Linked DNA regions of Homo sapiens. The protein of the gene in region 3 purifies or fractionates together with the protein of the main gene of each other region. This does not show direct contact. Each region holds a gene or a part of one and is shown on either strand. Other genes may lie near its edges.

Region 1 (3,500 bases), on a different chromosome or scaffold from region 3:
ACTCTCAGCATAAGCCAAGAAGCAGGTATCAGGCATAGATTATCTGTAATAAACAATATTGTGCCGATGGGTGATAAAGGTAGAGTTGCAGTAATATTGACTTAATATTCCCCAAAGCTCATCCTTTCCCAAACATTTTGGCTGGCCTACTAAAGCAATACATTGATTTGTGTGAATTTCATCTTCTTTCACTTCTTCTGAGCACCACTGTGAAGTACTGTTGATCGGCAAAATTACCAAAAGCTGAGCATCCAACGGAAGAAATTTAGAACCCTTAAAAACCACAAAAGGGATAATCAACAAGAAAATGAGTGTAGATGAAGCAGAGTTTCATATCTCCCTAACCATTTTCTCTCTTGCGGTTCTTTTTGCTCCTTATTCATTCATTCTTTTTCGAGAAGAATAATTCTGAAAATTAAACTAATGTGTTATTTTTTCCATAATGTATGATCCTGCTTCTAAACCCTGTTCACAGACCTAAGGAAAGAAAAATAAAAAATCAACCCAAGACTAACAAACGTATATCCCAACTCTCAGATGCCAAGCCTTCTTTTTGTTCTTTTCTTTTCTTTAGTTCAAGACAGAGTTTCACTATATTGCCCAGGCTGGTCTCTAACCCCTGGTCTCAAGTGATCTTCCCCCTTGGGCTCCCAAAGTGCTGGGACTGCAGGCATGAGCCACCATGCATGGCCAAGGCTTGTTTTTCAATGTAGACGTGCTGTTTAGTAAGGGCATGCTTTGTTGAAACATACAAATGAGCATATTGCTTAAATAAGCAAGTATGTAGACCAATAATGACAACTTGTTTTAAATAGTGTTCTTTACTGTGTTATTATATCATGATACACTGTCACATGACATGGTTGAGTTTAAAGGACTATTTTGGCATATGCTCCATTCCTCTCTCAAAATTCTAAAAGCCATTTAAACAGTAATTTATACCAGATATTCCTATTATTGCCCTTGGTAATTAGTTATGTTAGCAGCTCTGAGGAATGAAGTTCTAACTAACCTATTTTAGAATCTTGCTTTGCTAAAGCTTTGTCAGGATTCATCCTCACATCTTCTTGCTACTAACTCAATAAACTCATTTAATTTTCCTTAAAGCTTGAAATAGACTTCTAAGTATATATCTAACAAAAAAAATTGTATTTCTCTACTTTTTGAAATGAAATGTCCTTATACTGCATTCTCTTTCCCCAGTTCCACTGTACCACAGTTTAAACAGTAGGTAAATGGAAGCTACAGAAGGTTACTTCCCCCTTTTACATACCAAAAAGTGGCCCAGTGATGGATGGGGCAGGCAGTAGAATGGGATGTTTCCCAGCCCATATCAGGCACTACCAAATGTCTGTGACAACCTGCCACAGGTGGGTCCTGCAATTGTCCAGGTGTAGCATCTGTGCTACCCAGATGGTCACTGGTGAGGGGAAGTCTTCTCCAGCATAAGGGGAGCTGCAGGGCAAGTGTAACTGCAGAACTATCAGACACTTTGAAGCTTGCTGTCTAGCAGAACAAGACTTACTGCAAAATGATTTCAAATACACATGGGCAATGGCATTAAGTAAAACTGAATCACATTAGAAAGTTATTACTTTGATTGTCTTTCAATTAATCGGATTGTGACAAGGAGTCTCAAATTGGTATTGGCATGTCTCTTGCACTCACTTAACACCCACAAATCTCAAATTTTTCAGAGTAGGCATCAGACTCAGCATAATATCCATGCAGAATGTTATTATTTTTTCTTTTGCACTTTATGATAACCTTCTATTTAGAGCAAGTGATACCCTTTCCCCACTTAAAGTTCAAAGCGTCTTTAAAATGAACACTTGGTAAGCAATTTTAAAAGGTAAATAGAAGGAGATAGTCATTTTTTAATGTGATTTTATCATTTAAAAATATGCAAAAGAATAATTTTTTAATGTATAAATACAATAGTTTCTAACACTGTGCAGTCCAGCGGGTTAATCACTAGCCACACATTGCCATGAGCAAGTAAACTGTGGCTGGTGTGAATTGATATATGCTATAGGTGTAAAATACACACAAGATTTTGAAAATTTACTTCAAAAGCAAAAAGAATGTAAAATTTACATTAATAATTTTTTAATCGATTATACGTTGAAATGACAAAGATGGTATGTATTTGGTTGAATATCTGTTAAAATTAAATCTACTTTTACGAAACTTTTTGGGTTTTTTCATGTGTTTGTTTTTAAGGTGGCTACTTGAAAATTTTAAATTACATGTGATGCACATGTTTCTATTGGACAACACCGGTTTAACCAAATGACTGCACTCCACAAGAGGGCACCACAGGAGCATACAAAATTTAAAAGCTGCTTTTTTGGATGTCAAGTTTTTAAGCCTTAAATTACAGGATGCTGAAATAATCTAGAAAGGAAATTAATATTTAATATTCAGCAAAAGGTGCCTTTTTAAAGGAGCACTTTTATGGCTAAAAATAGAGTAACTGAAGACCACAAATTCCAACCCTCCAAAACTGTAGGCAACCATTCTCTGTCTCTTTTGCTTTACCCCTCAGAGAAAAGTAACTAACTACCAACACTACTAAAATAAATCCCATCCCTTATTTAAATGTCTATCTAAAATGGCTGTTCTGATATGGGAAGACTACACAGGTGCCAGCATGTGCTTGTTTAGGACATAAGTAACCAACAGCATGTGTGTACACTGTTCAGTCACTCATTACTGGTTAGCGTTTCATGCTCGAAATAAGAACGTGTCTCCAGACACCTTCCTTATGCTTGGGATTTCCTGTGGGGTCATGACTTACTGCTAAAGTGCTGTCTCCAACATTGGTGGTGATGAGCCCTTCGATAGTGCCATACTCCACGTCTCGGGGATTGAGGCGTTCTTGGTTGCGCCTTTTAAATTTTCGGAGAGCAACTCCCAGCAGGCAGGCTAAAAGACATACTGCGAACACTACAGAGAGAATAATGAGGCCAACCTCCAAGTGGAAATTCTGTGTTCCAGGGAAGGATTTTCCTGGAGTTGGAGGGAAAAGGGGGAATTAGTTGTAAGGATCACTGCTTACTTATTATTAGCATAACCAATATCCTAACAAGTAGCTCCTGATCCTGACCACACAGTCTCACAACTCACGAAGTATTAAAACTAAAACACTTCCTAATGCCTGGCCAATGGCCCAGACATTTTAACCATCATTCAATTAGACACAACTAGAATTTGAAAAAATTCCACTGAGAATCAATTGCATTAATGTATGAATGTGAGAGTGCTTTTAAAATATAAAGTACTGTACAAATCTTTGATATTACTCTCATTAACTTGGATTTGGTATGTTTCGCCATCAAGCCCTTACAGACACTGTACTATCCTTAAGAGAAAGGGCTACCTGAGCTAAAACCAAATTACCCATCTGTGGTCTCTGTCTTTAATATATCCTGGGTGTCTACTGCTGGTTTCTCACTGATTTTTTTACATCACAATTTCTGCCTAGGAACCCATTCATT
Region 2 (3,500 bases), on a different chromosome or scaffold from region 3:
GGGGAGCCCAGGCTGTGGGGCAGGCACAGAAGTGCCAGGGAAGGCAGGAGATAAAGCTGCCAGGAGACCTGGGTTTCAACAGTAGAGCCCTATGGGCTCAGGTGACTACTTGCAAAGCCTTCTGCAGGGTGACGCTTTATGGCAGCCAGGTCCCTGCCAGATACCCAGGGACCCTGAGATCCCACATCAGCAAGCAGAAGGAGGTGACAGAATTAGGCTGAGTTTTCCTTTGGTCTCATTACCACCATGTCACCCTCAACTCCTCCCTTTCCTAATAATAATGATATTATCATAGCTAAGATCTACTGGCCAATCACTAGGTGCCAGATTCTTCACTTTGCAATGATAATCTTTATTTTATAGATGGTAAAAATCAAAGCTCAGAAAGGTTAGAAAGCCAAGTTTACAGAGGAAGCAATGATAAGACTAACCCAGGTAGGCTGGCTACAGGGTCTGCGATCTCCTTCTTTTTATCTGGAAATAATTTTAAATTTACAAAAAAAGTTGCATGTATAGGACAAAGAACTCTCCTACACTCTTACCCAGATTCACCAACTGCTAATTTGACATCTTTGTTTAATCATTCTCTCTATATGCAGTCAGCCCTCTATATCTGCAGGTTCTGCATATGTGACTTCAACCAACTGTGGATCAAAAATATTCAAAAAAAACTTAAAAATACAAAAAAAGTATCAATTTAAAAACAATATAGTATAACAACTATTTACATAGCATTTACATTGTATTAGGTATTATAAAGAATTTAGAGATGACTTAAAGTATACAGGAGGATTGTGTAGGTTATATGCAAATAATGACACCATTTTATAACAGGCACTTGAGCATCCTTGGATTCTGGTATCTGTGGGGGATCCCGGAACAAGTCTCCCTGAGGAGGGCAACTGTATACAAATTCTCTCTCTTTTCTGAATCATTTGTAAATAAGTTGAAGAAATCAGGCCCCTTTAGCACTCAATACTTTAGCATGTATTTTCTAAGAATGAAAACATTCTCTCACACCACAAAAATTAACGAAATGAATATTGATACTATAATGACAATGATATTATTATTAACATATGGTTTCTATTTTCTGGTCCAGAATCCAGTCCAGGATGAAGCATGGTATCCAGTTATCACCGCTCTCTAGTCCCTTCCGATCTGGGGTAGCTTCTCAGTCTATCTTCAACTTATGATCTTGACAATTTTTAAGAGTCAGGGCCAGCTATTTTCTAGTATATTCCTCAATGTCTGATGTTTTCTCATGATTAGGTTCAGGTTATGCATTTTCGTGAGGAATTAGAGTCTGTACAATTAGTCATTAATACAACCCCACCCTATGTGAGTCTTTCTGGGACACTCACCTTGGGGCAGCCAGGATGAGGAAGGACTGAGAACCCCTATACTGTGTAGGATGCTAGAAGGAGTAGGGCCACTTTACTGGAGAAAAGAAGCCCCTGCACCCATGGTGTCTTCAAATACCTGAGTTGCTGCACAAGAGTGAGGCTGCTCCTGAGGAGTGGATGCAACCCCTTCTACCTGACTGGACACACATGCATGATGGTGACACGTGCAACCCAAGCCCTAGGCACAAGTGTGGACTATGGGCACATATGATTCCCATTCTGTCCTGCCCAGCACAGCTGTGCCAGCTGCTCAGGGACCTAGAGTAAGAACTGCAAAAAGAAGTCATGGGGAGGTGGAGCTCAGCATGGTCAGTTGGAGGAAGACTTTCCTAAAGACTAGAGCTGTTTGAGCATGGAGGAATCAGCTACTTTGTAGGGCAGTGAGCCCCTGCCTGGAAGTGGTCTAGCAAAAAACAAAAACAACCCATGTGGACTACTCCACAGCGGGGATAGGGCTGGCCATGGTGTCTTCCAAAGCAGGACTCAGTGGATCCGTGGACCTGTTGTAGCAGTATCACCTGGGATCTGAGAAATGCAGAATCCTGGGCCCCACTTCAGACCTGCAGAACCAGAATCTCTCTGAGATGAGGACCCAGGAACTTGTGTCTTAATAAAGCTTCCAGGTGATTCTTGCGTGTGCACAATACTGAGGGGAACTGCTCTGAGGTTCTTCTAACATTTCACAATTTTGCGATACTCAGCAAGGCATTTCTATCTAGCCCAGGTTAAACAACTAATTCAATTGAGAATAACCCTCCCCATAAGTATCAGTAAAGGCTAAATAAATTCTGTTCCTACCTTTTGCTAAGATGATGCATAAGCCTAAGCTCTGGGACAATCTGAGAAGTCCGCCAGACTCTAAGCTCCCTTTTGAGACAAGTTGCCCCAACCCATTCCTTCCCACACAAAGTGCACCATTTGTGGTGTGGGAGTGGCAAGAAACGAGTCCAGGTCTCTTGGCCACAGCTAAATGGACTAAGGATGGAGTCTGGGTCTAAAGCAGCCACCAGTAGAGGACATAGGGAGATGGCCATCCCTGCAGGCCAGCAGAGAGGAGGTAGGTCCCCCGAGAAAGAAGCCCCTGAACAGAGCAAATTTGGACAGCATCTCCAGTTCCTTACAATGGCTACTGTGTGACTCTCTTGGAAGCTCTGGGACCCAGCACAACTGTGGCAACTCCAGATGCCACTCCAGGATGTGCCATGATTCCTGCCACAAACCTCCACTGTCAAAGGACCCCGGGGTGTGTTTCATCACTGGGTGTGGCAATACAGCAGACCAGGTCCCCAGTCCCTTCCTAAGGCTTAGCTCAGGGCTGAGGAGCAACTACACAGCAAAGAAGGGGCCTTCTCTTAGCCTTTTCAGAATGGAGAAAACAGATAAATTTGTAGCATAAGCTTGTACCAATGGCAGTCACCACTGGCAGAGTGAAAGATCTGATTCTCTTAGAGGTGCTGGAGTATGTACCAGTGCAGACATGGGAAGCCAGAGAAAACAAAAGGACTTGTCCAGGTTAACTAAGAAAAAAAGGATGTTGGCCTCTGGGTAGGGGATAAAGATGAATGGTCTCACCATCTTACTTTACTGAGCACCTACTATGCGAGAGGCGCTGTCTTAAGCCTTTTTCCTGACCTATTTCATTTAAGCCTCACCCTCCAATGCAGTACCAATATTATCCCCATTTTCTTTTAACATGAGAAAACCAAGTTTTAGTGGAGTTAAGTACCTTGCTTAAGGTCTTAAAGCTCAAGAAGGGCCACCAGGATTTGAACCTGCCTCTCACTAAGGTCTTGTTCTTAGTACCGTGCTCATCTGTCATCAGACTTGGAGGAACACTCAATGGCAGATAAGCAGAGTAGACTGTAGAGCAGTGAGTTTTTATTAGTCAAGGGCAGAGCAGGTGTGGTGGCCCTGGAAATGTAGAACCACAGGCCCTGGACTGTAACTTAGCAACCCAAGGCTTCTTGCTGTAATTCCTCCCCACCCAGCCAGGCAGAGGGTACCCAGCTGTGACAGGTGGCTTAGGGAGCTGTGGCCATTCTCTCACCCTAAGGAGAGTCTAAGTAACATACTAGTGTGATAATTTATCCCATG
Region 3 (3,500 bases):
GGGAGTAAAAAGGTGGTGGATAGATCTCTCCTCCAAGTTTTCTTCCCTCTCTCCTTCCTCAACTCTCTGATGATGTCACAACTGCCAGCTATGTGTTTGGGTTGATGGATGTATATGTGATTGCATATATATGTGAATGTGTGTGTGTGTGTACATATGTAGTATGCCTTAGGTGGGGTGCAGTGGCTCACGCCTGTAATCCCAGCACTTTGGGAGGCTGAGGTGGGCAGATCACCTGAGGTCAGGAGTTGAGACCAGCCTGGCTAACATGGCAAAACCTCATCTCTACTAAAAATACAAAAATTAGCCGGGTGTGGTGGCACACACCTGTAACCCCAGCTACTCGGGAGGCTGAGGCAGGAGAATTGCTTGAACCCGGGAGATGGAGGTTGCAGTGAGCCGAGATCGCACCACTGCACTCCAGTATGGGCAACAAGAACGAGACTGTCTCAAAAAAAAAAAAAAAAAAAAAAAAAGTATGCCTTAAAACTTTTCATATTTTACATAATAATTAGTAATACATACTTCACTTGGGCCTTGTAGATCTGTAAAACTTCTCCTTGCAAGACAAAGCCACTGTTGATTGCAATGGAAATAAAAATTGAGGATTTTTTTTTTTTTTTTTTTTTTTACTTCTCCCAAGATGACACATTTTAAGCTAAAGAAAGCAGCCTCCAAGAATTTTATATTCCTAATATTTTGGGCAAGCCCGAGTTTCTAGGTTGTTTTTACCTGCCCAGTTGCTGTGGTGGAAGTTGTGCTAGAAAATTCAGCCTCCTTGGTCTATGTCTGTGAACTTACTAAATTCTTGTTGTTCTAGAATTCTAGATTTGGACCTGGTGGTTAGAGATGAAGATGGGAATATTTTGGATCCAGAATTAACTAGCACGATTAGTCTCTTCAGAGCTCATGAAATAGCTTCTAAACAAGTGGAGGAAAGGTTACAAGAGGAAAAAGTAAGTTTGACTCTGTCATATGCCATTCACGTTTTCTCAGTAATAAGTTTTCAACATTAGTAAAGTATCAGTCAAGCCCAAAATTGTCACTAAGAAAGAACCTGAAAAGGAGTAGCTGCAGAGTTTGTGTCCTACAGTCATGAGTGGAATGGAGCCTGGTGGCACAGGATGTCACCCATGACATGAAAGGGGGTCGGACAGCATTGTGTTTCATCGTAGGAGACAGGATCCTAATGATGTTGATTTTGTGTTCTCATCTGTCAAATGAGACACAAGACTTGATTCTGCATTTCCTCTCGGATAATGGTAGGCAGGTCATGTATTCCAAGCTCATTGAGGGCAGAGAGTACATGTCTTATTGTCTTTTCGTCTTCTATGATCTTTAATGGTATCATGTATGCATTAGCCTGTTCTCGCCTTACTATAAAGAAGTGCCTGAGACTGGGTAATTTATAAAGAAAAGAGGTTTAATTGGTTCATGGTTCTGCAGACTGTATAGGAAGGATAGTGGCTTCTGCTTCTGGGGAGGCCTCAGGAATCTTATAATTATGGTGGAAGGCGAAGTGGGAGCCAACACTTCACATGGCTAGAGCAGGAGGAAGAGAGAGGGTGTGCGGGGGGGTGCTACACGCTACACTTTTAAACGACGAGATCTTGTGAGAGCTCACCATCATGAGGACAGCACTGAGAGGATGGTGCTAAACCATTCATGAAAAATCCACCCCATGATCCAGTCACCTCCCACCAGTATATATATATACACACACACACAGTAGATACTCAGAAATTGACTAATTGAATCATCTGTTAATTCAACAAGTACTTACTGAGCATCTACTGTGTACCAAATGTTGAAGACATAATGATACATGAGACAGATGTCCTTGGAGGGTTTAGTCTAATGAGGGAACAAAAAATTAAATAACTACACATATATAATCATTATTTTGATTTATTGGATGGACACCTGAAAGTTTTGTATCTCTGAAAATACTCAGCACAGCAGTTGCACAGGATACAATTTTTTGTCTGTTGTGTGAATGCATGATTTAAGAATGTGCAGGGGAGATAAGAAAGTGACTGCACCAAGGCCTTTGCTGGGTTATGCCAATGAGTTATTACAATTTTCTATTCTGTAGGGAATAAAGAAAGCAAGTGTCAGTGATGAGTGTTGCTGGGGTTGACTTTCTGTTTCCTTCCATACACAGTCTCAAAAGCAGAACATAGATATTAACAGACAAGCCAAGTTTGCTGCAACCCCTTCTCTGGCCTTGTTTGTGAACCTCAAAAATGTGGTTTGTAAAATAGGAGAAGATGCTGAAGTCCTCATGTCTCTATATGACCCTGTGGAGTCCAAATTCATCAGGTGGGTGACATTTCTTGGCTGCCGTCTTTCCTCTTTGGTTAGTGTTAGGAACTTGGGATCAGAACCACTGAAGCGTCCCATTCATGCTGAGAGGCCTTGGATGAATGGCTGCTGGACACGAGCAAGCAGCCGAGTCAAGAGCTGTCTTAGACAGTGTGATGGCAGCCAGGTTGGGCTCTGGGTCAGGGTGAACCTTCTTGCGTGTAGATTGCTATTTGCTCGTAGAGTTATAGCAGTTGCAGGTACACTCTGGCCGTATCTTAAGAGTGTAGCTGAAGATTGAAGTAATACTTTGTTTCCTAAGTTGTCTTCGTAAGATTTTATATATCCTGGTCCCTCAAATATCACTATTTCCATTTTTCAAAATTTGGTTTCTATGAATGCCATTTCTGTGAGTTTTGTCTTGTTTTTTCTGCAAGATGATTGGCTGGAATACATCATTTAGAATGGTGCCTGCCACATACAGACTGTCAGTTAATATTTGTTAAATGAAAACACTGTAAGTCTATTTTTTCCTGCTTAGCCTTCAGTATAACTTTCTCTTTGCCCAGATGGAAACAATGTGGTTCAACTATGTATGAATTATGTGTGTGTCTGTGTATATGTTAAAACTCTAGTATCTTCACTTGTATTATTCAAAATTTGAAAACTTAGTGTATGAATGATACAGAAAAATACGAGTGGATTTTATTCTCACTTCTGATAAAGACTTTGTTTCCTCTTGACATAGGATGCAGTTTTTATTTTACAATGTATTTGGTTTGTCATAGGTTTTGAAATAAACATGCATTGTGCTGAATTTTATAGTATTGTCATTCTAAATGAACAAATAGGCTCTTAAAAAAAAAACCAACTTAGAAATACCATTTGCAAGTAGTTCTATTACAGTGACAACCCAAGACATTGCACATTAAAACTTGGCAAGGTTTTTGTGCTGTGGATGTTAATTGATGAGTAGCTGTATGTGATACTTTTGATATTTATAAACTCAATAGTTGTCTGTATAGTGCACGTACATGGTATTAATTATGAAGCAATGTGGATGTACATTTGGTACCCTGTTATTTGGAAAATTAACTTGCTTTTATTTCTCCATTTTTCAAGTGAGAACTACCTGGTTCGCTGGTCCAGTTCAGGATTACCTAAAGACATAGACAGATTACATAATTTGCGAGCCG
Region 4 (3,500 bases), on a different chromosome or scaffold from region 3:
ATTGAGTACTAAATGACTGACACCATTGCTTGGATTGTTTTTAAGTTCTGTATCCACTGTAGAAATGCCCACTGTAAAATCGTAAGTCCCAGCAGGAGTAAAATGGTCTGAGCCCTCATTGAAATGTGTCTGATACAACCGAAATATAAAGGGACTCAATGCTATGTGTGTTTATTATTGTAGGAGTCTTATAAAAGCTATGGAGTTGCTTTCCATGTTGCAGATAATGTATATTAGAAAAAAAGGAAATGATGAAAGCAGTATATTAAACTGAAAAACTTTTATATTTAACTTTGGTGTAGAAATTTCACCTGTCTAATTTTTTAGGCTTTATAATGAAAATATACTTGGGAGAAATGTGTCTTTAACATTAGAGGAAAATGGAGAACAAGAAAGTGTAATTATATGGATAGTTCACTTAAGTGTAAATCAAAATTTGATTGTTACTAAAGGATGGATAAATTATGCTTTAGAAGGGCCAACATGGATAGTACGTTGGATTCTAGATTAAATTGTTATTAAAGTCTAATTTGAACTACAGAAACAGACATCGTCTGGCTATTATTTTAAAAAATATTTTATTTCCTTTCCATACTTTATTTCCACATTAAGATGTTCCTAACTCCTATTCATTTGGAATATAACCTATACCAGAACAATTTTGTTATATAACAAGTTTATAGTCCCATTTAACGCTTTACTTAAACAGCGTTTATTTTAGTATTTTAGTTCATCCCTGTTCTGTTGTACTTTTAACAATGAAATTAAATATATCCTTTGTGACTTGTTTAGTTTTTAATTAGTCTCACTCGGGGTTACCTTCAGGAGACCATTACACTGGCAGCTCTTGTTGCCTTGTTGCCTTTTGACATCTGCTTTCATTAAAGTCAGTGCATTTTCTTGCCTGTGTCTTCCTGCAAGGACACTGATGTTAATCATGCCAAATTGGATCCATTTCTGAGGTCTGCTGCAGGAAGCAAAATACTGAAATTATCATAAAAGTAAACCATTATTCTTCAGTTGTTAGAGCACATCATCAGAACATAAAATTGAAAACAGAATTTCTATAGTCCAATAGCTTATGACTTTTGTGCCGTATGTATTTCAAACATTTCTTGCACAGACCTAACCAGCAGACAGAATAATGACTCTTTAAAAACGAAAGAATAAGTCCTTGGCCTGTGGCCAGAAGTAGCGAAAGTGTGTTTCTGTGCCATCCTGCCCTGCATGGCTCAGGTTTCTGGAGTCAGCTCTACTTTAAGTGATTGCTGGCATCATATTCTGGTTAGCCCTAAATGGAGCTTTCCTATTAAAATACATGACTGCTGAGGTCTAAAGTACATTGAATATTCTTATTGATCAACTTGAAGAAAAAATGTTAGTATAGAAATGTCATCTATTATGGAGTTGGCCAATTGAATATTGACTATGTTTTAATGTGGTGTGAGGTTTATTTTCTCCCATTTTTTCCACAGGTATAATAAAGTGGTTTAAAAAGATAAATAAAAAAAATTATTTCTATGGTAGGCATGCTTTTGACTAGTTGTCCCTAATTATTGCAAGCTCATTCTTTGTGTTCAAAGGTTTAATTTTATATATTCCAGACGATTCAGAGAGATTAGCCACAGCTTATTTAAACAAAGAAGACACACACAAAACAAAGCGATAGTTTTTTTTTGTTTTTGTTTTTTTTTCAGAAAGAATTCAGTTGCTTACTTTTCTTAAAAACATCTTTCCCATTTCATTGAGGCAGATTTGGAAGTCAAACCAGAAACTTCAGGCTCTACTACGATGGCAAGCACTTTGTTGGGGAGAAACGCTTTGAGTCCATCCACGATCTGGTGACTGATGGCTTGATTACTCTCTATATTGAAACCAAGGCAGCAGAATACATTGCCAAGATGACGATAAACCCAATTTATGAGCACGTAGGATACACAACCTTAAACAGAGAGCCAGCATACAAAAAACATATGCCAGTCCTGAAAGAGACACATGATGAGAGAGATTCTACAGGCCAGGATGGGGTGTCAGAGAAAAGGGTAAGCTACTATGAAACCACACTTTATCTTTTTCTGTTTGGGGTTCTTTTAAGAAAGCCATTATTGCCAGAAGAGATTGATTTATCCACAGTGCTTTGGAAAGTATATTCATTTTTCTTAATGTCTAGTTTCTGTGATGCTGAGCTTTGCATATAACTAATTCTTGTTCTATTAAAATATGTTAGGTAAATTTTTATATTCCTGGTTGTTTTCTGTTTTATCAGTTTCACAATTTTAAAACTATGTTGGAAAAATGGCCCCTAATAAAAAATAGTTCAGGGGATTGGTCAGAAGCATAACTCCTGGTCAAGAAAAGATAGCTACTATTACGTAAGTAATTGAGGGGGTTGCATTATCTCTCAAAATTACTTTTTTGTTTTCCTTAAAGATAATTTACTTTATAAATAGTTGTGTTCTTAGCAAGATTTTATGTGTGTGTGTATATTATGTGTGTGTGTATGTATACACACACATTTTGGGAGTCAGTCATTCTTGAATAGGAGGAGGATTTATCTCTTTATAATCTGTTAAGAAGTAATTGAATGAGTAAGATTCACTTTTACTTTTCCTTAATTATAAAAGACAATTAATTCTAAAAGACAATTTAAGTTTTTTAGCTGTCATATTTTAGTTGTGATATATTTCAGGTTAACATAAAAGTTTTAATTTCTTGGCATTAAGATTATTTTACTTTTGAAAATTGCCACCAGCCTCCTCCTCACCCCCAAGAAAAAAGTAAGAGATTTTCCTGATGTTTTATAGTGTGTGACATTTAGTTGGGGGCATTTTAGGTATTGTAATTGGAACTGTGTCAATTCATTTTTATGTTTTTAAGAATCTTCAATTGCTAAACCAAAGAAATGCAATAGGTCTTGAGCTCGGATTCTATGCAAGATTTGTGTGCAAGTTGTAATACCTAATTTGTCTGTGCTTTTGATTGTCTTATTTGTAAAATTGTAATAATGGTCAAATTGCTGTGAGGAGTGAGTGAGATAGCAAGCGTAAAATGCTCCATCAGCACTTGGCACATGTAGACACTCAATGTAGTTTGGTGGTAATGTTATTATATAGCAGCCATCTGACCTCAAGGCAGCATCCTCAAATAACTTCCCATTACCTTAGAGTATTTGGGTACAGAATGGAAATAAGAAAGTTTGTGTCCAGCTCAAATTTTAGTTTTTGGCAGATCTTACATTGGCATTTTGTTGCTACGGAGAAAACAACATTTAAAAGGATAAGCTGTAGAAAATGTATAAAAATTGTTTTTTTATATATTCATATTGTTAGGAACCACAAATCTTGTTTGGAAGTAGCCAGAACTTAAAATCCTTAATACCTGCTGTATTTAATATTCTTTTCATGGTCTAGTTCCCATTTTCTGACTATTGGTTGATTTTCCATTTATGGCATTTTTTAGTAATGCTTGTATTTGAATAATACTGACATTATATTCTTTGC

What was found. Proteins that work in one complex are often made in the same cells at the same time.
Region 1: the proteins of DOCK1 (region 3) and ACVR1 purify together in Homo sapiens (co-immunoprecipitation; one large-scale study listed by IntAct). This does not show direct contact.
Region 2: the proteins of DOCK1 (region 3) and POMGNT2 purify together in Homo sapiens (co-immunoprecipitation; one large-scale study listed by IntAct). This does not show direct contact.
Region 4: the proteins of DOCK1 (region 3) and CHN1 purify together in Homo sapiens (affinity purification with mass spectrometry, with the first as the bait; one large-scale study listed by BioGRID). This does not show direct contact.

Annotation. Positions count from the first base shown.
Region 1 is NC_000002.12:157,775,331-157,778,830, forward strand, and holds part of ACVR1 (activin receptor type-1 precursor), read right to left. Parts: intron 3,013-3,500; coding exon 2,801-3,012; intron 1-2,800. UniProt on the Homo sapiens protein: Bone morphogenetic protein (BMP) type I receptor that is involved in a wide variety of biological processes, including bone, heart, cartilage, nervous, and reproductive system development and regulation.
Region 2 is NC_000003.12:43,099,580-43,103,079, forward strand, and holds part of POMGNT2 (protein O-linked-mannose beta-1,4-N-acetylglucosaminyltransferase 2), read right to left. Parts: intron 1-3,500. UniProt on the Homo sapiens protein: O-linked mannose beta-1,4-N-acetylglucosaminyltransferase that transfers UDP-N-acetyl-D-glucosamine to the 4-position of the mannose to generate N-acetyl-D-glucosamine-beta-1,4-O-D-mannosylprotein.
Region 3 is NC_000010.11:126,995,928-126,999,427, forward strand, and holds part of DOCK1 (dedicator of cytokinesis protein 1), read left to right. Parts: intron 1-820; coding exon 821-956; intron 957-2,164; coding exon 2,165-2,322; intron 2,323-3,426; coding exon 3,427-3,500. UniProt on the Homo sapiens protein: Involved in cytoskeletal rearrangements required for phagocytosis of apoptotic cells and cell motility. Along with DOCK1, mediates CRK/CRKL regulation of epithelial and endothelial cell spreading and migration on type IV collagen.
Region 4 is NC_000002.12:174,876,382-174,879,881, reverse strand, and holds part of CHN1 (N-chimaerin), read left to right. Parts: intron 1-1,753; coding exon 1,754-2,042; intron 2,043-3,500. UniProt on the Homo sapiens protein: GTPase-activating protein for p21-rac and a phorbol ester receptor. Involved in the assembly of neuronal locomotor circuits as a direct effector of EPHA4 in axon guidance.